Homo sapiens: one gene and its partner. The protein of the gene in region 1 interacts with the protein of each later gene in a biochemical or structural test. Each region holds a gene or a part of one and is shown in the gene's direction. Other genes may lie near its edges.

Region 1 (12,177 bases):
GTGTGGGCTGAGGAGCCAGATGGCTCTAGTTCAAATCCTGAATCTAACACCTATTGGATGACTTTGCCCAAATAATTCAATCTCTCATGTTTCCTCATTTAAAAAAAAAAAAAATTCCCAAAAGACAACTTGACAGTGGCTCCTCATTTTTGAAATGGGCTGATAATAACTCCTAGCTCATGGAGTTGTGCATATTAAATAAGTTTAGTGGCCGTAAAGCTCTTAGGAAGTGCCTAACCCATACTATGTGCTCAGTAAATATAATTATTTCATTAGGAAAGTTAATCCTGAACTATGTGAAATTTAAATTGGAATGTATTCTTTAAACATTAAATGTGACCATCCTGAAAGAAATTCTCCTTTCTTGATAGTTTCAAGGAATAGTCAGAATGCTGCCAAGCTCCTTGAAACCATGTAGTGAGAAATGTAGAGAGAATTAAGGGTGAGGGGAGATTTTTTTTGCTTTGAAAATGTAGTCATGCTTATTAAAGAAAATTTGAGAAGTTTAGAAAAGTATAAAGATGACAAAAATTGCTCATATTCCTGCTACCTCAGTGCTAACCATGTAAGCATTTTAGTTAATTTCTTCTAGTCATTTTCCCCTTGGACATTAATTTTTTCAATGTACAGACATACGTGATTATAACACATATACAGAACTAGAGGTTATTTAGCCTAGAGAAGTGAACCAATGTAGCAGTCTAGATGAGGGATATTGGGGGCCTGGTTTAGGTGAATGGCTACAGAGATAAAGCATAGGGACAGGAGACAAAGATATTTCTGAGATAGAATCAACAAACTTTGGTGTGGTGGTTTCAAAGATAGTTTTTTAGCTCTGGCTCCTGAAAGGAGGCAGATGGAACATAGGAGGAAGAGCATATTTGCTGGGGAAGATGTTTGGTTTTGGACATGCTGAGTTTGAGATTTGAATAGGACATCCAGATGGAAATATGTAATAGGCAGTTGAGGTATATAGCAAGGACTTGAGAGAGTAATTTGAGGGTAATCTGCTTGGGATGTGAATGAGAGCACCGAATAGTCAAATATGGTGCGTAAGTGAGCTAATTTTTTACTTATATATCTGACCCCTTAGTATATATCATAGCCTTTCAAGGGCAGGAATAGAGTCTCCATCCTTACTTCCCAGCACAGTACAAAATAGTAGGTATTTGTGGAATGAGTTTACTGAAACAAAAGAGAGAGGTCATTAATTTGGTCACTGTAGAATGAACTTTAGGAGGTCATCTTTATCATTTATTGCCCCTTTTCTCTTCAGTTGTGATTTCAGTTCCTAAAGAAAAATAAGAGACCGTGGCTGGGTACAGTGGCTCACACCTGTAATCCCAGCACTTTGAGAGGCCAAGGTGGGAGGACCACTTGAGGCCCAGGAATTTGAGACCAGACTGGGCAGCAAAGAGACCCTGTCCCTACAAAAAAAAAGTTTTTTTTAATTGGCTGGGCATGGTGATGCACTTCTCCAGTCCTAGCTACTCAGGAGGCTGAGGTGGGTGGGAGAGAGGATCACTTGAGCCTAGGAGTTTGAGGTTATAGTGAGCTGTGATTGAACCACTGAACTCTAGCCGGGTTCAAGCAATTCTCCAGCCTCAGCCTCCCAAGTAGCTGGGACTAGAGGCATGCGCCACCACGCCCGGCTACTTTCTGTATTTTTAGTAGAGACAGGGTTTCACCATGTTGGCCAGGCTGGTCTGAACTCCTGACCTCAAGTGATACACCTGCCTCGGCCTCCCAAAGTGCTGGGATTACAGGCGTGAGCCACCTTGCCTAGTCCAGTTTTTTAAATGCAAGATTAGGTTGAAAGGATTACAGCCATCCTGTTATTTGGATGGCTGTAATCCTTTCAACCTAATCTTGCATTAAAAAAAAAAAAAAAAAAAAAAAAAAGCCGGGCGCAGTGGCTCCCAGCACTTTGGGAGGCCGAGGCGGGCAGGTCACGAGGTCAGGAGCTCGAGACCATCCTGGCTAACACGGTGAAACCCCGTCTCTACTAAAAATACAAAAAAAAAAAAAAAAAAAAAATTAGCCGGGCATGGTGGCGGGTGCCTGTAGTCCCAGCTACTTGGGAGGCTGAGGCAGGAGAATGGCGTGAACCTGGGAGGTGGAGCTTGCAGTGAGCCAAGATCGTGCCACTGCACTCTAGCCTGGGCTGACAGAGTGAGACTGTCTCAAAAAAAAAAAAAAAGCAAAAAAAAAAAAAAAAAAAAAACCACAAAGGCTGGATGCGAGGTGGCTTTTGCCTGTAATCCCAGCACTTGGGGAGGCCAAGGCAGGCGGATCACTTGAGGTCAAGAGTTCGAGACCAGCCTGGCCAAAATGGTGAAACCCCATCTCTACTAAAAACAGGAAAATTAACCGAGCCTGGTGGCGCACAGTTGTAATCCCAGCTACTCAGGAGCCTGAGGTGAAAGGATCCACTTGAATCTGGGAGGTGAAGGTTGCAGTGAGCCGAGATTTCACCACCGCACCCCAACCTGGGTGACAGAGTGAGACTTGATTAAAAAAACAAAAAGAAAGAAAGAAAATGCCTGGCTAGCCACAGTGGTTCATGCCTGTAGTCCCAGCTACTTGGGAGGCTGAAGTGGGAGGATCACCAGCAGTGATAGAATGAGACTCTATCTCAATTTAAAAAAAAAGTGATAATGAAGAAGATTGATTATTCCAGCCATTCTTCACATACCCAGAGTATGCTTATAGTGGGTATAAGAGATCTCACTACTTAATTTGAACCAACACATGAGGGGGTAAAGATTTAGGAATATAAAAAGTATAAATTAGTATAGAGCAAACTGGAAGTTCCTCAAGAGTATTGAATCTTTGAAATTGTGTAGCTTACAGAAGTCCTGGTGGAATGTCTGTCAGAAGCTATTAGATTGGTGGCAAGAGCGTTCTAAGTGGACAGGTGGATTGTGGAAAGACTAACCCCATCTGTATGCACTCTGTCCTTCTCTTTGCATACTTTAGTTAGCAGTTGGTTAATTTGCATGTGTGGTTTCAGCCATCATGTTGTATTGACTCATTCTGAAAGCTCTGTGAGGATAGGCCACATGTCTGCCCGCCCCCACTGCATCTAGCACTTTATGTGTGATAATCTATTGAAAAATATTTGTCAAATGAATAAAATGGTGAATGTATTCAGCAGACATTTAGTGAGACTTGAGAATGTCCTGTGGGGGTGGAAGTGGGTAGAGGAGTGGTAGGCCTATAAGGATTGATGAGACATAATGTCTGACTTTAAGGAACATAAATCTGGCACTAAATATAAATTTTTGAAACTCCTTAATTCTTAGATTAGCCAATGCAGACAGTAAGTAACTTACTGACCTAAACCAGAATTTTTTTGTAACATAGATTTTAATAAATTTCTTTGTTTTTTGTTTTTTGGTTTTTTTTTTTGAGACAGTCTTGCTGTGTCGCCAGGCTGGAGTGCAGTGGCGCAATCTTGGCTCACTGCAACCTCCGCCTCCCAGGTTCAAGCGATTTTCCTGCCTCAGCCTCCTGAGCAGCTGGGACTACAAGCGCGCGCCACCACGCCCATCTCTAATATTTGTATTTTTAGAGACGGGGTTTCACCCATGTTGGCCAGGATGGTCTCGATCTCTTGACTTTGTGATCCGTCCGCCTCGGCCTCCCAAAGTGCTGGGATTACAGGCGTGAGCCACAGCACCTGGCTGATTTTAATAAATTAGGTGAAATCTTAGTTATGTAACAGACACCCATTCTGCATTCTTTCTCTACTAATTCAGCTGGGAAGCAGGATTGCTTAGGGGTCAGTTTTATAATGTTACTCAGTTTTTTTATTTTATTAAAATTAGGGATTTGATTAAGTGGTGACATGTTGCTTTTCTGAAATTACAGAAGGGCATTTATCTAAAGTGACTGTGACCAAGTAGCAAGATACTTAATTGAGTAGGTCGGTATACTAAAAATAGCTCAACTGACTGTAATGATTCAGGTATGCAAAGATCAGATAATGCAATATATTAGTTAAGGGAACTTTTACTGTATATGGTATAATGGTCTATGGTATATTTCCTTGTAAGTTGTTTCTCTCTCTCTCTTTTTTTAAATGTTAAAGTAATCAAGATGATGCTAACAGTCAGTTACCAGAACTCATACAGGGACCATTTGTGTGGAAACTAAAGCTGCAGAAAATCCAGCAGAATCCTGCGCTACTATTGTAGTTATTTGTAGTTGTTTAGGCAGAAAAATCAAAGACAGGAAGTTAGGAATGTTTGAAGACATTATTCTAGGGTAATGAATTCAGATAAGATGTATTTCACTCATGTTAAAGCTATCCTCTGAAAATAAGACTTGCCTATAGAAGTATCCCCAACCAAAAGCCTATTAGGAACTCCCTAGCCCAGTCAGACAGAATGTGTATTCCAGGGAGAAGGCTGTATCCTGCTTATGTTAGACTGTACTACATACTTCACGTCTTAACTAGATATACCAATTAAGAATAGGCAAAACCTAATCAGTTGTCAGAAGGAAGATATATATGAACAAGAGAGAAAACAACTCCATGGAACTCAGAAGGAGAGTCCCCAAACATGAATTTGGCAGTGATTTTTCAACACTGTCCAGGGAGAACATAAGCCAGCTTTCCACCATCATTTGGACAAATTTTTAGTGATAGGACACATATAATTTATCAGGCTTTATTGTGGTTTCATTTTCTTTTGGTTTAGATTCAATACTCACCAGATAACTTCTCAGATGCCACAGTATGAGGAATAGGGTACCCTGTGTGGTAAGAGGACTATTCCCCCCATTGTAACCAAATAAACTGGCATTTGGCCTATATGGTAATTTTCTTCATAAACTTTATAAAAAATAAATATATATTTTGTTGAGGATACAGGGCTAGTGAAAAATAAAAATATCAATATAACATTAACCTTTTAGAAATTAGTTAGCATAAATTAACCCTTGGAAGCCTAATCAATTCCATGTGTCCAGAAAAAAAAAAAAGGATTTTATGGTGCTGTAGAACTGAGAGTCATATTCAGGAATAATTCATCTCTTGTTGTAGAAGGCAGGGATCATAGTCTTATTCTTATGTACCCAGTGCTTGGCACATGGTTGAAAACTCATTATTGAATTATAGAGATGGCAACTCCAGACCTATAGTGAGAACAACTAGACATTTTATGGCTCTACTCTTAGAATTATTCTGACATCAAAAGAGTAGTTCTGCCATTTCTTTAACTCAGCAGAAATCATTCATTAAGTGATGAAAATAGAAGCTTCTAAACAAACCAGAGCCTTAAAAGGCAAATAAAAGGTATATGCATCTGTTAGAAAAAAAATGGGAGAGCTATGTGGTGTGTTTGAGGACAAAGACAATCTGTTTCATTATTTTTATTTGTAAATAATTTTTAATTTTATTTTGTAGACCTTATTGCAATATGCAAGCAACAAGAATGCATCAGAACATATTGTGTATCTTCTGGAGGTATATCGACTTGCCATCCAAAGCTTTGCCAGTGCACGTCCATACTTAACTACTGAATGTGAAGATGTCCTCTTAGTGCTTGGCAGATTAGTACTGTAAGTTTGAGAACTTAAATCACTCTTAAAATTGAGTACCATTGGTCGTGTTGTTTGCCTGGTTTCTCTTTACAGTGGCATCACATTTATTCTTCAGAGCACCATTAGAGTCATACCATTGAATGAAATTTCCTTCCTACTCACGTTCCCAGGAGATATAGTCCAAGTGAAGCTCCAGCCAAGCAACATCATCTTTAACTTGCCTCTAGAGTCTCTTTTCCTATTCAGGCTTGGAATCTGAGAATGATATATTTCTATCCCTTAGGTATAGATTGATTTAAATGACAGAATACCTGGAAACTGGTAGTCCTTGAAGAACATCTTGGCAAAAACAACATGAAATTCTGCAATTTGATTATATTTGAACTAAGAATAATTTTATTAGCAAAAAATATCAGGGTACAGTATAAGATTACCATCCTAAGAAAGAGATCATGATTTAGCGCGGGCATGGTGGCGCACGCCTGTAATCCCAGCACTTTGGGAAGAGGCTGAGGCACGAGAATCGCTTGAACCTGGGAGGTGGAGGTTGCAGTGAGCCAAGATGGCGCCACTGCACTCCAGCCTGGGTGGTGGAGTGGAGACTGTCTCAACAACAAAAAAAAAAGAACGTGATTTAGCTGTTATTTTAATATTTAGCTGCATAGTAGCAGACAAAATTACACCTTTATTGTAATTTTCATCTGCAAATTGAAAAGATACAACAGCCAATCAGTTTTAGCTGGGCATCACCTTGTTCAACTTACAGATTGTTTAGTGAGATGACTTCTAGTCTAGATGGTTTATTTTATTTTTTTTCTAGCCTCACCTGTTTTCCTTCCTATTTTCCAGTGGCCCTTTATGGAAGACCAGCATTCCTGGTTTTATGATCATATTTTTCCTTCTACCAAGTCCTAGTTTCTGTTTTACCTATTGTAATCCCTAAGGGGTAAAGGATTATTCTGTAGGGTTTTAGAGAGATGTTGATTCATTGGTATTTTGAGTTGCTCATTATTCAAGTTGTAGTGCATTTCTTTTTTCAAAAAAATCTTCCTGTTATTTCTTTTCTGTGTCTTCTGGATAATAGTCAGAAAAAGGAAACTCTTTTGCTTGGTTTTTTTTACAGGTAAAGAAACGACTTTGCCAGTCTTCCTGCTTCCTCTGCAAGTGACAGAAACCTATAGATAACAGTTACATATATTTATCATTTATCATTTTATCAGCTGAATTGACAGTAGTATGAGCTCCCATTTTTGTCTACTGGAATTAGAATTGTCCTATATGGGTGCCTCTTCACACCCAAATAAACAAAATAAAACTGCTTGGAATGTGATTTCTAAAGAGCTTATTATATTCTTACCAAATGTACTAAAGCAACAATGTAAATATAAAGCCTTGTGGTCTTTCTTTTTTTCCTCCTTTTTAAATTGAACAGTCAATATAACAACTCTGAAGCAAATTTTGAAGAGTAAAAACATTTAAAATAGCCTAAACAAATGTAAAATAGATTTTTAGTATTGCTGTCATACTCTACTTAATTATTACTATAACCACCTTTATATACTTACTCATTTTTATTGTAGGAGTTGTTTCGAATTACTGCTTTCAGTGTCTGAAAGTGAACTGCCATGTGAAGTCTGGCTACCATTCCTTCAGTCTCTACAGGTGAGTTGATTTTAACTCAGAAAAGTTTTCTGTATCCAAGACACCTAATTAATTACTCCCAGCAAACTAAAATTGGAACCTTAGAACAAAAACAAGTTTATTATATATTGATATTAGGTCATGAAATGATAAAAAGGCCCTTCACATGAAGGGGATGTATTAAAAATGGGTTTTTTAAATTTGGTTTTGTTTGCCTCTACATAGTTAGAAATCAACAAAAAAGTTTCATTATTCAAACATAAAGTTTAGACAGCATAAAGCTATCAAAATCATACATGATTATAAAGTAACAGTATTTGGATCCTTCATAGCATACTTATTGGTAACCTTCAATATACAAAACACTATTTCATTACATCTAAGGTTCACCTTTTTCTTCCTAACACTTTAAGAATTGTACCTGGCTGGGTGTAGTAGCTCACGGCTGTAATCCCAACACTTTGTGAGGCCAAGGCAAGTGGATCACCTGAGGTCAGGAGTTCGAGACCAGCTTGGCCAACATGCCGAAACCCTGTCTCTACTAAAAATACAAATATTAGCCGGGCATGGTGGCGGACACCTGTAATCCCAGTTACTTGGGAGGCTCAGGCAGGATAATCGCTTGAACCCAGAAGGCAGAGGTTGCAGTGAGCCAAGATCGCACCACTGCACTCCAGCCTGAGCAACAGAGTGAGACTCTGTCTCGGAAAAAAAAAAAAAAGACATAATAAATAATAGACCGGGCATGGTGGTACATACCTATAGTCCCAGCTACTCAGGAGGCTGAGGCAAGAGAATCTCTTAAGCCCAAGAGTCCGAGGCTGCAGTGAGATATGATCACACCACTGCACTCCAGCCTGGGTGACAGGGCTCATCCCTAAAATAATAGGACTCGTCTCTAAAAATAAATGCATGCAGTCATTCATTTATTGATCACTAATTATGTACCAATCACTGCTTTACACTACATTTTACTTGTTTTATATCTTCTAATCAAATTACAAACCTTATAGTGTGAGAATTATTTGAATCTCCATTTACAAATGGGGAGACAGGTGAAGAGAGGTTAATTAGCTTGGACAAAGTTACACACAGATTTCAAACCCTGAGCTTACTTTGCTAACTACTTCCTTGAGGACACAGCTTAGACCTGTTTCATGGAGGCACAAATAAAGACATGCATATTAACAGACACACTTCATTATCTGAACATTTCTTTCCTCTGGAATACATAACCCAAAATGAAATGATATAATGTTCTCTTTAGTGAGAAGAGGATTCTTTGTCATGTTCTTGGCCTATTTAAAGCCCTGTAATGCAGTCCTAATATCTCACATATCCGTACAGCTGCTAAAATCATCTTTCATGCGTAGCACTTTGATTTTTGTCACTCTGTGTTCTGAAGCCTGCCAGTCGTTTTGTTCTGGCATATGGCATCCTAGAAGGGCAAATCCTAATTAGGACTATTACTACTATATTAATACTGTTTGAGTATCCCATATCTCAAATGCTTAGGAGTAGTTTGGATTTTGGAATATTTGCATTACACTTAGTAGTTCAGCATCCCTAATCTGAAAATCCGAAATGCTCCAGTGAGCATTTCTTTTGAGTATCGTGTTGATGCTTACAAAGTTTTGGATTTGAGGAACATTTTGGATTTCAGATTTTTGGATTAGGGACACTCAACCTCTATCCTTTTTAGAGGGAAATCTCTCATATTTCTTTATTATTTTCTTAGCTTGCTTGAATAAAATAGTTGCCTCTTTTTCCACTTGCATAAGCTTTTTCAGGTTTATCAGATGTGTAGGATATATTTTTTAACATGTGTTCAGTAAATAAATGTAGTAGGGGTACAAATAAATGTTAAGACATGATCCCTGTTGAAATCCAAAAGATAAAAAGCCCTTAAGTTTTCTTATTTTATATTATAAATGGACAAGGCAGCAAATGGTATTAAGGATACTTTTGGTAAGAGAATAGTTTTTATCAGAGCAGGCTGCAGGTAGAATATTTCTCAATTACTATTTACAGCTGAGTAACTTTTTTCCTATGGACATAAAAATATACACTCTGCAAATGATTTTTTAATGAAAAATGACAGCCTATTTTCTGCAACTTGGTTTTTTACATAATAATCATGGACATACATCTAAGATTGCATATGTAGATCTCCTGTTTTGATGATCACCTAGAATTCTGTTTTGTGGTTGTGCCTTTAATTGACCAATGTCTTGCTATTTACTGTAAATGGTGCAAGAGTGAACATCTTGAAAAGGGCGGCAGAGTGGTCTTAGCAAAAAAAAAAAAAAAAAAAGAGCATCTTGTGCTATTATTTCTGTATTGTAGATTTCAAGAACTGGGCTAGGATATTTCCACCTTAAAAAGAAACAAATTGAAGTTTTAAAATTATTCTTGAAATGCTACCATAGTTTTTGTAGTTTTATAGATTTAACATTATTTTTAAAAAATAACTTTGCTATATTAGATGTCTATTGGTAACAAAGGATTACATACCATTCTTATTCTGAGTAAACTGTATTTTGAACTTTAACAAATGAGAAAGTAGAGAACTTTTAAAAAGAAACTCAAACTGTGGTTTTTATTTCAGTTGCTGCATATCATGGTGGGTGGTAGTATTTTCTGCTAAAGTGTAATGGTACAGGTCAGTTAGACATTATAAATATGATAAACCTGACACCTCAAATTTTTAACTTTTCACATGGACTTTTTCTCCTCACTCCAAAGTAAACGCGAGTCATTCTAAGTTAAGAAGAAAGAAGCCTGAGGACAAGTCAAGCTGTTAAAGCAAAATTGCAGCATTTGTTAAATATTGCTATTGGTGAACTAATAATTAGAAATATTACTTTCTGTATCAATTCCATATTTTAAGTCCTTTCTCAGTGGAAAATAATGCAACATATTGGGTGGGTGTGTGGGTGGGTGTATATGTGTAGTAAAAGCCTATTTTAACATGAAGGTTAAGGGATGGGGGAGACTTTATATCTTGTAGTTTTCACTTGAGTGAATACTAAACTATATTCTTATGCCTGTGAACATTTTTGGCTTATATTTTCCAAAGAAATGTTGACGTAAATGGAAGCTTATGTTCCTAGAGAATTTCAGGAGTTTAAAATAAGGGAAACAAATTAGAATTTTAGAACATGGGAACAAGCTCACCATAATCAATAATACTCAGTAGTAATAGAGGACAGTGAAACATATACGTAATCATTTATACTGAATTACATTTCTGACTCCTTTTCCCTCACCCTTGAATATAAGAACTTTAATGAACAAACTATTGGTAAATACATTTTGTTTGCTGAGTTAATAGACTTTTCAGGACATTTTATATAGAGCCACCTGTCATTTAAATAGCAATTTTTTAGACGAATTTAAACAATTATATAATGATTTGTGTCACTAAGTAATACTCCTGTAATTCCTGTTAGAGGAACAGGCAGCCTGTGTGAATACTGCAGAATTCTTTAAAAGAAAGCGGCACCAATGGCTTTCAAATAATTAAATGGGCACAGTGGCTCATGCCTTTAATCTCAACACTTTGGGAGGCTGAGGCAGGTGGATCACCTGAGGTCAGGAGTTCGAGACCAGCCAGGACCAACGTGGCAAAACCCCGTCTCTACTAAAAATACAAAAATTAGCCAGGCGTGGTGGCAGGCGCCTGTAATCCCAGCTACTTGGGAGATTGAGGCAGGAGAATCGCTTGAACCAACAAGAGCAAAACTCCATCTCCAAAAAAAAAAAACCAACAAAACAAAAAAAATAAATCAGCCTCCACCAGGGCTATCATTCAAGTCTTCAGAGTCTGCTAGTAACATGAGTGATCCTAATAGTAGGGCACTCCAAATATCCAACAGTAATGCAAGGACCTAACTTGAATTGTGATAATTTTACCAGGGAGGAATTCAGGAAAACGTTTTAAAGGCACTCTTTTACTTAGTGAAAACATCCTAGTTATTTATTTATTTATTTATTTATTTATTTATTTATTTATTTATGAGACGGAGTCTTGTTCTGTCACCCAGGCTGGAGCGCAGTGGCACAATCATGGCTCACTGCAACCTCTGCCTCCCAGGCTCAAGTGATTCTCCTGCCTCAGCCTCCCGAGTAGCTGGAACTATAGGTGGGTGCCACCACGCCCGGCTAATTTTTTGTATTTTTGGTAGAGACAGAGTTTTGTCATTTTGGCCACGCTGGTCTTGAACTCCTGACCTCAGATGGTCCACCCGTCTCAGCCTCCCAAAGTGCTGAGATCACAGGCATGAGCCACTGTGCCTGGCCCCATCCTAGTTTTTTTCTAAAAACAGCAACAGAGGCTGGACGCGATGGCTCAACACCTATAATCCCAGCACTTTGGGAGGCCGAGGCGGGTGGATCACGAGGTCAGGAGTTCAAGACCAGCCTGGCCAAGATGGTGAAACCCTGTCTCTACTAAAAATACAAAAATTAGCTGGGCGCGGTGACAGACGCCTGTAATTCCAGCTACTCAGGAGGCTGAGGCAGGATAATTGCTTGAACCCAGGGGTTGGAGGTTGCAGTGAGCTGAGATCGCGCCACTGCACTCCAGTCTGGGTGACAGAGTAAGATTCTGTCTTTAAAAAAAAAAAAAAGACAGCAACAGAATTTCACAAGGCTTTGAGTATAGTCTTTTTTGGTTACTTATTTTCAGGAAATCCAAATAGGTTCTTTCAATTCCTAGGTGTATCAGATATGTTGAAAAGGCAAAACTAATTTTTATATTGTTAACTTATTTTCTGGGTGTGCTGTTCTTGTTCTAGGAGTCACATGATGCATTATTGGAATTTGGGAATAATAACCTACAAATATTGGTTCATGTTACCAAGGAAGGGGTGTGGAAAAACCCAGTTCTTCTTAAAATTCTGTCTCAACAGCCAGTAGAAACGGAGGAAGGTAAGTCTTAAGACTATATTGGATGAGGATTTAGTTCTGAGAACGTTGGAATTG
Region 2 (12,177 bases), on another chromosome or scaffold:
CAGATTCACTCCATTCTAGCAGCGCAGCCTGAAAAGGGGTCGAATGTGTGTGTGCCACTGACAACTGTGACTGTGCAGGGGGTAGGCAGGAAAGAGAAAGGAGAGAAACAGACAGTGGGGAAGGGAAATGGAGAAAGAATCAAATGAGGGAGGAAATGAAAATGAGAGAGAGAGAGAGAGAGAGATTGTAGGAGACGTGAAAGAGTGAAGGATCGGAAGGAAGGGTGGGGGATGCAAAAGCCAGATTTTTATTGGAAGCAATTGAAGTGGTTGCTATGAGACCCGCTCGAGCGGAGGACCAGCAGCCAGCCCGACGCTGATGGTTCTTACCTCGTACTAAAACCTTTGCTTTGACACAGTTTTAGAGTTGCTTAATATTCGAGCAAGCACCTGACACGGGTGACTTTCTCCTTCTTTTTTTCCTCCGGTCCCTCGGGTAAGATGGAGGTAGAAAATGAAGCCAGCTGCTCCCCGGGCAGCGCATCAGGCGGGTCCAGAGAGTACAAGGTGGTAATGCTGGGAGCAGGGGGAGTTGGTAAAAGCGGTAAGTTTTCACACCAAATGCTGGGGAAGGAGGGACCTCTATAGAGACAACTCTATAGAGTGAAAGAAAAATGATATTGCTGATGCTGTTAGAGGTGAACTGTGGCAGTTAAACACAGAGTATGGGTCTGGCAGGATGCTCCAAAGTGTCAGGACTGTTAAACCGATGCTGATGAGTCAGGATAATGCAGACAGCCAGTGATGATCCTCAGAACCTTAAGAGGATGATTGTTTTCTTTGATTTCATGCTGGGTGATATTTGCTCTTAGTGTATAGGTCTTTTTTAATAATAAAAATAAGTATGAAATTGTCATGGTATGAGAAAAATGTGCTCCTAGTCTCAAAAATCTTCACATAAAGAAAGAAGTGCTATGAATATTCAATTAAACACAGTTACAAACACAGACATATACTCGGGATGATGGGTGTTGATTGTTGTGTTTGTTTCTTTCATTAGGAGGTTCTTTTTCCTCATCTGTAGTCTGACATGGTGTGTGTGGGCTTTGAATACCAAAAGAAAGTTGGTTTTTGAAAGTGGCAGTGATTTATGGAATGATATTCATTGTGAGTCCTGTGCAGGGTGATCAAACTAAACTTTGTGGTCAATTAAAGGAGAAAGCTACACAAATAAATGAAGATGAGGTGATAATAGAGATGAAGAATAGCAAATTTCTTTTGGTACATAAAGAACGGAAGTGTCAGTTGTTGGGATTCTTGAGGAGCCTAAAAGGCCAAATATAAAAAAATTAAAAAAATAGATACATAGTAGTTTTTTGGCTGATCAAATGTTAGATAGCTCGGAGCTATGGCTATCACTAGAAAATAAATAAATATAGCTTTTTATATAAATATTAAATATCTCCACTGGGAATATATCTTTGGGAATTCTAAAAGGTAGAAAAAATATTATAGTTAGCATGGACAAAAAGCATCAAAACAAATCAGTAGTTTTAGTGTTGACAAAAAAATTAAAAGACGAAGACAATATTTTCGGCAGAAGAAACCAAAAAACTAACAACTTTGGTGGATGGGTCCACAAGGGATAGGAAAACTGAACAGTAAAGGAAGAGGAAGGAGATTGTGACTTTAGTGGACAACAAAGTTAAAGATAGTAAGAAACATAAAATTCAGCACCCCTACCTCTTCTCCTCACCCTACAAAAGAGAATTCTCATAAAAAATAAAAGAAATAGGTACATCTGGATGTGGTCAGTAGCAAAATGCATATCAAAGTGAAAAAAATTATTCATCTCTTCTAGGGAGGCAAAAATATGAAAGAAAAGCTTTGTAATTGTGTATAAATGAGGAATTTTTAAAAAGCTTTCTCCTCTAAATATAATGATTTGAGAAGGAAGGAATCAAAATAGGTTAGGATTTAAGGAAGGAGGAAGGGATGGAGGAAGGATAGAGACAACATGATCTATATAAAATGAAGTTATACTTTACAAGAATCCAGTCAGATACAGTGAGGAAGAAAGAAATAAACAATGTGAGAATAAAATACTGAAGAAGAGAGAAAAACAGATTTAAAAAAAACAGGCAAAAGACCAATCCACATTAAATGCCACCAGCAGCTTGTGAGGTCAGGGAGATGCTGAAATTGTCGCAATAATGTGCCTCTGTATTGCTTTTGTTTGCTGGTTAGGTATTTGCTTTTAGGAGCTTGGGGGATGTGGGGATAGAGTGACTGATTTTTAGCCTACTTCAATTTATTCCACCTAAATGAAACTTGGAGAAAAGAGATTTTGGACGGGAACATCCTTCAGCAACACACTTTTCTTGTGATATTGCTGATATTATAGTGGTGATATTTTATCTTCTATTTTGATCTCTCCCAAGTATTATTTGTGCTGACAGATCATTGTTACTGTTCCAATGACTATGGATTTTCAATGTGACACATGGCCCACAGAGTGGCCTGGCTTGCTCTCATCTTTGCTTTGTACAATAGAAGTCAATTCATAATTAAGTACTTGAACAAAACTTTTCCTGTGAGATGAAAAGACAGGAATGACCAGCTCATTCTCAGAGAAAGATAAGGATAAGGAGTATAAACAGCTCAGTTGTATTGATTATATATAAATGGCAACCTTGGCTACTACACCAGAGAATATTTCTCATACTACAATTTCACACCTGGAAAATGCTGTCCTTATGACTAAATGTTTGAAATCACAGTGAGAAAATCATCTGGTCCTTGGACTTTCCCCTGTGACTTACCTGATGTTCTTCCATCAGCATATAAACATTCAAGCACTGATTCTTAATATTAACCTTCTATTGAAGGTTAAAATATTTGCTTTCAAATGAGCTAAAAATATACATGGTTTATTTTATCTCATTTGAGCCTAGGCTGGGGTGCAGTGGCATGATCATGGCTCTAAAATATACGTTTTAAAACCTACTTTTCATATCAAAGACTTAGATCAACAGAGGTATATGAAGGGATTGTATAACCCCATTACCCTGGGTTGTGTGAAGAGATTTCCAGAAGAGATCTGCTCTTCTGAAGAAACTAAAGAAGATGCATCAAGCTACCATCTGTTTCCAATTCTGAGAGTCAAGTCCAAGTCAGCCTTAAACATGAATTAAAAACTAAATTTATGGTGACTATAATTTTTAAAATCTTGGAGATTTTTTATGTATATTAATATTTATTCTTTTTTATTTTTCTTTTTGTAGAGATGGGCTCTCACTATGTTGCCCAGGTTGGTCTCAAACTTCTGGCCTCAAGCAATGCTCCTGCCTCAGCCCCCCAAAGTGCTGGGATTATAGGCATGAGCCATTGTGCCTGGCCTGAGAAATGTTTTTGTCCATGTTTTACCAAAATATTTTTTAATAGAAACTTTTAAAAGAATTTGCAACTTTACTGAAATAGGAATTCCCACAAGATTTAAAATATGTCAGTTAATGAATGTACTTTATGTGAGGAATTTTAAACCACAAGTAATCAATAAAGTTTACTGAGCACGTATTATGCACAGTCCTATACTAGTTACTATGAAGGACGTAAACATTTATGAAGCCCCCATTGCATGGCAGGCATGGGCTACATGTATTTCACGCTTATACTCAGTCCTAACCACAGTCAGAGTCGGTATTTCTATTTCACAGATGAAAAAACAGAGGTCAGAAAAATAACTTGTGCCTGGTCATGGGGGTAATAATTTAGAGTTCTGTGATGTTTTATCTAACTCTACTACATTATGTTTAATGCTCTGAGAAGAACAAAGAGTTGCATCACTCACTAGTAAGAAGAAAACAGATCCATTGATAATGCATTTCCTAGGTCTCGAATGTTATATTTAGAAGAGATCTTAACCATCTAGGCTATCACTTTGATTTATACATCTATGCCGCTTTAATCTTTAACCTAATTGAACACTATGCATAATACTTCTGTATAAATATATAATATTAATATTTGTATTTATATTTTTATAATTATATGTAATATTGTCCAAGAATGTTACTAACTGCAGAGAAAACAGGGATACACAAGAATTATTTGGACAATGGCCAAACTGAGGCATTGAGAGGTGAAGAGACCTGCAAAGGTCATTTATACAGCAGTGGCAGAGTCAGATCCAGAATCCAGTCCTTCTGACACCATTGAAGCTGCTTTTCCATCACTCCCCAATTTTTACACAGAGTAAGCTGAATCAAAACTGCACCATACAAAGTAACAGATATGTATACAAAGTAGCAGACATTTAGGAGGAACAAGTATAGAGATCTAATGTATAGGATGAGGACTAGAGGTAATAATATTTTATTTGGGGTTTATGCTAAATTAGTAGATTTTTTTATGTTTATTTGTACATAGTAGGTGTATATATTTTATACATGTATATATTTATGGAGTACATGAGATATTTGGATACAGGCATACAGTGTATAATAATCACATCAGGGTATGGTGTATCCATCACCTCAAACATTCATCATTTATTTGTGTTATAAATCTTCCATTATACTTTTTTGTTATTTTAAAATGTACAATAACTTATTTGTGATGATAATGACCCTGTTGTGCTATCAAATGTTAGATCTTATTCATTCCATCTAACCACAATTTTGTACCCATTAACCATCTCCACTCCCTCTTCCTACTACCCTTTCCAGCCTCTGGTAGCCATCATTCTACTATCTCCATGAATTAAATTGTTTTAATTTTTAACTTCCACAAATGAATGAGACCATGCAAAGTTTGTCTTTCTGTGTCTGGCTTATTTCACTTGACACAATGATCTCCATTTCCATGCATGCTGTTGCAAATGACTGGATCTCATTCTTTTATATAGCTGAATAGTATTCCATTGTGTATATATACCACATTTATTTTATTCATTCTTCTGTTGATGGACACTTAAGTTACTTCCAAATCTTGGCTATTGTTGCTAGTGCTGCATAAATTAGTAGATTTTAGCTGCTGATACTGCCACCCCCTATAAAAAGTAGCTATGTGAAATGATGGATATGCTAATTTGTTTTCCTATAGTAAATATTTTACTATCTATGTGTATCCCACAACATCATATTGTATACCTTAAATATACACAATAAAGTTTATTTTAAAAATAAGACTCATGACGAGAAAACTACTTAAGAAACAACACACATATATATACACACATACACATTCAGTGAAATAACATTAAATGACAGTAGAATAGAAACTTATATTACAAACTGTGATTACAACTAAAACCAAAAGAAAACAACAAAAAAGACAAATTATCCAATAAAGTTCAGTATGTTAGGCATCTTTTAGGCATCTTCTTTTAGCCTTCTATCTCATTTTGTTCCACTGCCCGCCACTCACCCACCCTAAAAAATAAAAATAAAAATAATCTCATGGTTACAGTTTTAAAGTTTTATGGAGCCTAAACAATCCTTATAACAGTTTCAAATATTGACCTTTGTCACTGTGGTTTGAAACAGCAAGGCCGTTCCTCAATGCCAGAGCATGATGAAATATTGTCTTCCTTGGCTTCACATCTGGTTCTCCAAGTTCAGAATCAAATTTATTCAACAGATTTTATTTAATAAAAATAATATCTTATTTTCCAGGTATTTTGGAAAATATCTGCATTTGGGATTTATTCTAAGTTAGTAGGTTTTTATTTTACTGATTTTTTTTATTTTTATGGGTACATAGTGGGTATATATATATATGGAGTTAAGGAAATATTCGTATACAGGCATACACTTAACATAATGATAATGTTTTAAGATTTAAATAATTTAAGATTCATAATGATCATATTTTGCAAAATAAGATATTATCGCATAAAATTGGGGTAAAAATAACATTTTACTTATTCTGATTATGATCTTATTTGATCACAAAGTAAGAAGGCAAGTAGGAGAGGTATCTAAGCACAGAACTATCAAGAGATTTGTCTAGTAGGAAAGTCAGAAAATAAGGACTGGACATGAACACAGGCTTTCTACATCTAAATTGTTTTTCTATCAAATTGTATGGGAAAAGCAGAAAAAGGTTCCCAATGTCAGATGAGAACTTTATGTCCTTCTCTGGTCCCTAGGACACATCTTGGAATTATTTGGTGAAATGTTGTCAACATACATCTTCAAATGTGAAATATGTATGAAACACTATGCAAGTCATTGAGCAGGGAGGGAGTGTTATTCACAACTATGATTTCAGGTGATTCCTGACCTCTGGGAGTGCACCATCTCATGGTGGAAAATTTGCTGTAATGTGTAATACAAAACAATAAGTTTATATTAGGCTTCTGATGTAAGAGCTTTGGAAACTCAGTATAAGGGGTGGCTATAAGAGATGTGAAAGTTGAGAAGAAATCACAGCATAGATGGTATTTAAATTATGTCTTAAAGGATGAGGAGGATTTTTTTGATGCTGAAGAAGAAAAGTATGGGGAGATCCAAGGGAAAGAATTGAACATAAACAGTGTATACAGGGGCACAAAGGGATCTGAAGGCTTATAATTTTTAATGGCAGCATCTTGATAATTTAGTGTCTCTAAGTGGTAGTTGAAAAAATATCTTTTGAGATTTGCTCAATAGATGCTTCAGTTAACTGTGAAAAAGTTACACAACACAAATAAACTGAAAACCCAAAAAGGATTAGGGAACTCAGAATTTATTAGAATGTTTCCATTGTGAATTCTTTGTAAAGAAAAAACTGATTTCTAAAATAAACAAACATATTCTCTCCCACGGCCATGTGCAGTTTGTTGCCTCTGCAAATTCAGTTTCATGTAGCAGGATTTTATAAAGAGAAAGCAGTAACAATATCTCTGAGGTAAACGGAAAGCAGCACACAACCAATTCCTTCCACCTCAGTGAATTAGGAAAGCAGGTAGGAAGTTGAGCCTTTATCTGATGAATTAAATCAAGGCAAGCAACCAAGTGCATCATTCATGTCCCACAGCCTCTGTATTTTACTTCATTAGCAGAACTTTGAGTCTGACAAAGCTCAACAATTGTCACATCGTGGCCATGCGTTATCCTAACCCTGTGGACTGTAAGGCAAAAGAAACAAAATAAACAAGGGGAAAGCAAAAAGATTTTAAGATTCCAGGGCCTTCTGTTCTCACCCTTAATTGTTACCACCTCAGTTGTACTGCAGACCATCACTCACTGCAATACTGTCAGGAAGCATTAGCCAAGAGGTCTAAATAAGGCTCAGTAAAAGAGTAAATTGGTATCTACTCACTCAAATAATGATTGAAAACAGAATTCAGGCGAAAGGCTTTGATTGACAACATCTCCAAGATTATATGCACTCTGTAGATTTTAAATTGATGAAAGAGAGTTTCTACAGCTCTACATGAGTACTATATGATATGTCTGCCCCATCTATGACTGGAGATGAACGAGCATGTAATAATCCCTCAATGAGCCCACATGTTGCTGAGCTCTTTACGTTCACGCATTTGCTTTGGTGTTTTGCTGGCTGATGGTCTGTCACATTCCCTTGCCTTACTATACCCCTCACCCTGCCTTGATCTTGTGAGGAAGGCTTTACTGTCTGCGTTTTATAAGTGAGAAAACTGAGGTACACACACACACACACACACACACGTAATATGGCCCAAGGCACATAGATATTAAATGATGAACCTAATGTGCCTACATATGGATGTCTAAGTTCGATGTTTACATTATTTTTATTTTCTCACCTGAAAGTTTTTATTTTTTGAAGACATGATACAGTGAACCTGAGTTCTAACTTCAGCTGCATTTTTTTTTTTTTTGAGATGGAGTCTCGTTCTATCACTCAGGCTGGAGTGCACTGGTGCAATCTCGGCTCACTGCAAGCTCTGCCTCCTGGGTTCACACCATTATCCTGCCTCAGCCTCCCCGAATAACTGGGACTACAGTCACCCGCCACCATGCCCGGTTAATTTTTTTTTTTTTTTTTGTATTTTTAGTAGAGACGGGGTATCACCGTGTTAGCCAGGATGGTCTCGATCTCCTGACCTCGTCATCCACCCGCCTCGGACTTCCAAAGGGCTGGGGTTACAGGCGTGAGCCACTGCACCCGGCCACATTTTCATGCATGTATTTTAAACATCACACAAAATCGTCTATATGAAAATATTTTAATATTTTTAATTTTCTACACAAACAACGGAGAGTGCTACGCTTATTAGATGGGGTAGTGAGTGGCATGAGGAGCTCTGACTAAACAATTTAGCATGGAGGTGCCAAAGACTGGTTTGTTCTTGTCTATTCAGAGACCCCTGGGGGCCTCAACCACATAGAGAGAAGGTGACAATTCCTTTCAACTTGAGAAAACCAAGTAACCCAGTAATTATAGGAATTTATTGAAACCTGGGATCATGCAAACAAAGAAAGTAAACAGGGTGCTGAGTAAACCATACCGATTTTTGAAATTAGGTGCTGATTTGCTTAGGGAAGCATACTTTCTTTAAACATATACATTTTGGAATAATTAATAGAAACTGACAAAAGAGTGTTTGTGTGTGTATGCGTGCACGCACGCGTGCACGCCTAGACCTGTGAAAAGCCCACAGATATGACCAAGAATTAGACACAGCCTCTGCCCTGTCCACCAGGGTAACAAACAAGATGTATAAACAGACTTGTGAGGCAATGATAGAGATGCATGGGAGGTATTTTGGAAGCAATGAGAACTATGGCTTAGAAAGATAAAATGACCTACCATACATTGTTCAGCTGTTCATCTGTAGCGTTGGGACTAGAGTCTCCTGACTTTCTAGAGCATGAATTTTTCCAATAGGCCATTTTGCCTCCCATAAACCAGCATAAAATCTCACTGGAGATCAACCTGCTGCCTATGACCGATTATTTCTGTGCGTGTGTGTGTTTGCAGTGTGGTGGGATTGCGACTGTACACATTGACAGACGGTGGTCCTCTGTACTGCTCACAGACATGGAAGGTGCACTTTTATCAATGAATCTGGCTATTTGCAAAGCCCATCAATGATATCTACTCAATCACTTGGGCTTTCCTCATAAATAAATACCAGCTTTCTGGTGACCCTGACCAAACAGTGCTACCTGTCCTTCTCATTGCTCAGCAGGGACCAGCTAAGTGCCATTGCTAGTCACTCTGCCAGACCATCATTTCTGCCCTTTCTGCCTACTATAATTCTACTTCAGCTAACACCACAGCTTCAGCGTGAGAGTATTGATAGTTCTGGTCCCCAAATACTCCAAGCATTTCAGCATCCTGCCACTGCCATGTGTATTGGGCAGATAGAAACCTGATTCTTCCTAAAGTATGCATGAAGGATGTAAAGCCGAAGGGGGAGTGGGGGACTGGGGCCTCCCTGGAGATGTTGCATTGAAAAGGAAATCAGAGAGAAAACTATATTTGCAGTCCCAGGAAAAAATCTTTAATTGAACTGAAATGAGATAGTGTAGATAATTTGTGGTCTTACAATGGAACGCCGAATAAAGATTTTTAACAATTATAGTTAGAGAAGTTGTGGTGGTGGTGGATGAGGGAAGTTCTTTATCAGAAGATTTCTTGTATATGTGAAAATCAATGTTTGGGTAGTCACTTATTGAATGAATCAGAAGTCCTTAGACACTTTACCAGTTCACATTTCCTCTTAATATGCTTTAAAATGAGCAATAAAGTGTGTGTTTGTGTTCATAAATCTGCGTGCATTCACAAAAGAGGAATGTTTCTTGTTTTGTCCAAACTATTATTCTTTCAATTTCTTCCTGCAATGAATGGCAAAATAAAAGTGAACACTTCTGAGTTTTGCATATACCTGACCCTGTTCAAAATGCACTAAATATGTTAATTTATTAAGTCTCACTAAACCCAGAAGTGTGGGTGTGGTTAATATCTCTAATTAATAGATGAGAACAATAAAGCTTGAAGATGGTGAGTAATTCACTCAGGAACCCAGAGCCTGAGGTGACTATGCAGGACTCAACCACTGCCAGAGCTGAGGCCCTTAACCACTGTCCACTGTGCTCGTTACCATATATTATTTTGATCAACCTTCAATCTGTAGAATGAAGCCCTACCATAGAAGTGATGACAGAATAATGTGAACTGGGGGTTTGGGTAACCCAGGAAATCCATATTTGTCTTTTCTCATCTGTAAAATGGGGATGACAATAATAACTACTGTAACGGTTCATACTCAGAATATTAATTACATAGCCTGGCACAAACTGTGGGACAAAGTTTATAACGTAAATGGATAGCTTTGTTTTTATTTATTTACCCTTAACAACACTTGACGTTGCACAGGTCACTTAAGCTCTTTGAGTCTCCCTTTTCCTCATTAAGGGCTTTAATTAAAATATCCTCAGAGAATTGCTGGGTAGATGACATTGGAAAATACTAAATAAAAACTATAGATTATATTGCCCAATATTACACCTTCATTAAAACTGCTCATTCCCTCCCTCCCTCCCTCCCTTTCTTCCTCCCTTCCTCCCTTCCTCTCTTCCTCCCTTCCTCCCTTCCTTTTTTTGTTCCTTCCTTCCATGCCTCCACCTAAGGCAGTTTACCTCTGTAACATAGGGAAGAGTAGTGACACATATTTCAGATAGGTCCTAGGAAAATACAATTTGGGTTGAATATTGTAAAACTGCCATTGTATATGCACCTGCTCTATTCTTGTTCTTGCTCTCTAGATCCTTATATTGATTAGTTTCTGCTTTGGTCTCCTGAGTGGTAATTTCAGTGACAGTAATAAAAGTAGTTTACTAGTTACCTTAGTAAACAATCCCTTTATTCATCCTAATTGACCCATACCACACACAAACACACACACACACACACAAACACACACACACACACACACACACACACACAGCACACTGCCTGTTAGAGAAAGGACTGGAGGACAATTGCCTGCTACAATAGCCCACAAAGGGCCTGATTAGAGGGGCTATGGCTTTTAACAGAGCATGCCTCTGCTTGAATCCAGACTGAAATTAATTTTTCCAATTTGTGTATTGTTTTAATAAATTTTGAGTAATATGACATGTCTTCCATTCTCCATAGTAGCAACACTGAACATTTAAAGGGAAAGAGTCATATTTAATGGTTGCAGGAAAAGCTAATAATAAGCTACATGGATACAGATTTTTGTTTAATTGAAGAAATCAGGCTCTTTATTTGGTAGCAAAAGGGCACATCTTTTATTTGAAATTGTAAAAACTTCAGCTAATTGGTTCCTGCCTATTATATTTATTTATTTATTTATTTACTGTTTAGAAATATTTCATACTTTATTCCAATATAATTATCTTAGGACTGAAATCAGTGGAAAAATATTAGGGATTTTATATTGGCAAATTCTGAGTAACAGAAGTCTGGAATACCTCAGCATCTTTTTTTTTCCCTTTCATTTTTAGTTGACAAGTAATAATCATATGTATTTATGTGTTATTTTCATAGGTGTATACAATGTATAATGATCAAATAATGGTAATTAGGATATCTATCACCTCAAACATTTATTACTTCTTTGTGCTGTGAACATTAAAATCCTCTCTAACTTTTTGAAAATACACAATAAATTATAGCCAACCACATTCATTATATAGCGCTGTGGAACACCAGAACTCATTCCTCCCATCTAGCTGTGATTTTGTATCTGTTAACCAAACTCTCCCCATCCTACCCTCCCTCTCTCTTCCCAGCCTCTAATGACCACAGTTCTACTTCTATATCAACTTTTTTAGATTTCATTTACAAGTGAGAACTTTTGGTATTTATCTTTCTATGCCTGATTTAGTTTACTTAACGTTATGTCCTCCAGGTTCATCCATGTTGTGGCAAATGACAGGATTTCATTCTTTTTTCATGTCTGAATAGCATTCCATTGTGTATGTATATGACATTTCCTTTATCCATTTATCTGTTGATGGGCGTTCCGTTGTATTCCATATCTCAGTTACTGTGCGTAGTGGTGCAATAAACTTGGGGGTGTAGGTATCCTTTTGATATACTGACTCCTTTTTCTTTAGATAAATACCCAGTAGTGGGATTTCTTCTATCATCTTTTAAACCCCCATATCCCACTCTTACCTGCTCTTCATACCACTTCATACCACCGTCCTGAAATACCATTTTGATTCTTCTCCTCCCCAAACAACTAAGATATCTTACTTTATTCCAACACCG

The links.
Region 2: the proteins of RLF (region 1) and RIT2 form a complex in vitro, tested with the Homo sapiens proteins (one study listed by BioGRID).

What each region holds. Positions count from the first base shown.
Region 1 is NC_000001.11:40,183,642-40,195,818, forward strand, and holds part of RLF (zinc finger protein Rlf), read left to right. Parts: intron 1-5,413; coding exon 5,414-5,568; intron 5,569-7,130; coding exon 7,131-7,212; intron 7,213-11,990; coding exon 11,991-12,123; intron 12,124-12,177. UniProt on the Homo sapiens protein: May be involved in transcriptional regulation.
Region 2 is NC_000018.10:43,103,784-43,115,960, reverse strand, and holds the start of RIT2 (GTP-binding protein Rit2), read left to right. Parts: upstream 1-275; 5' UTR 276-441; coding exon 442-544; intron 545-12,177.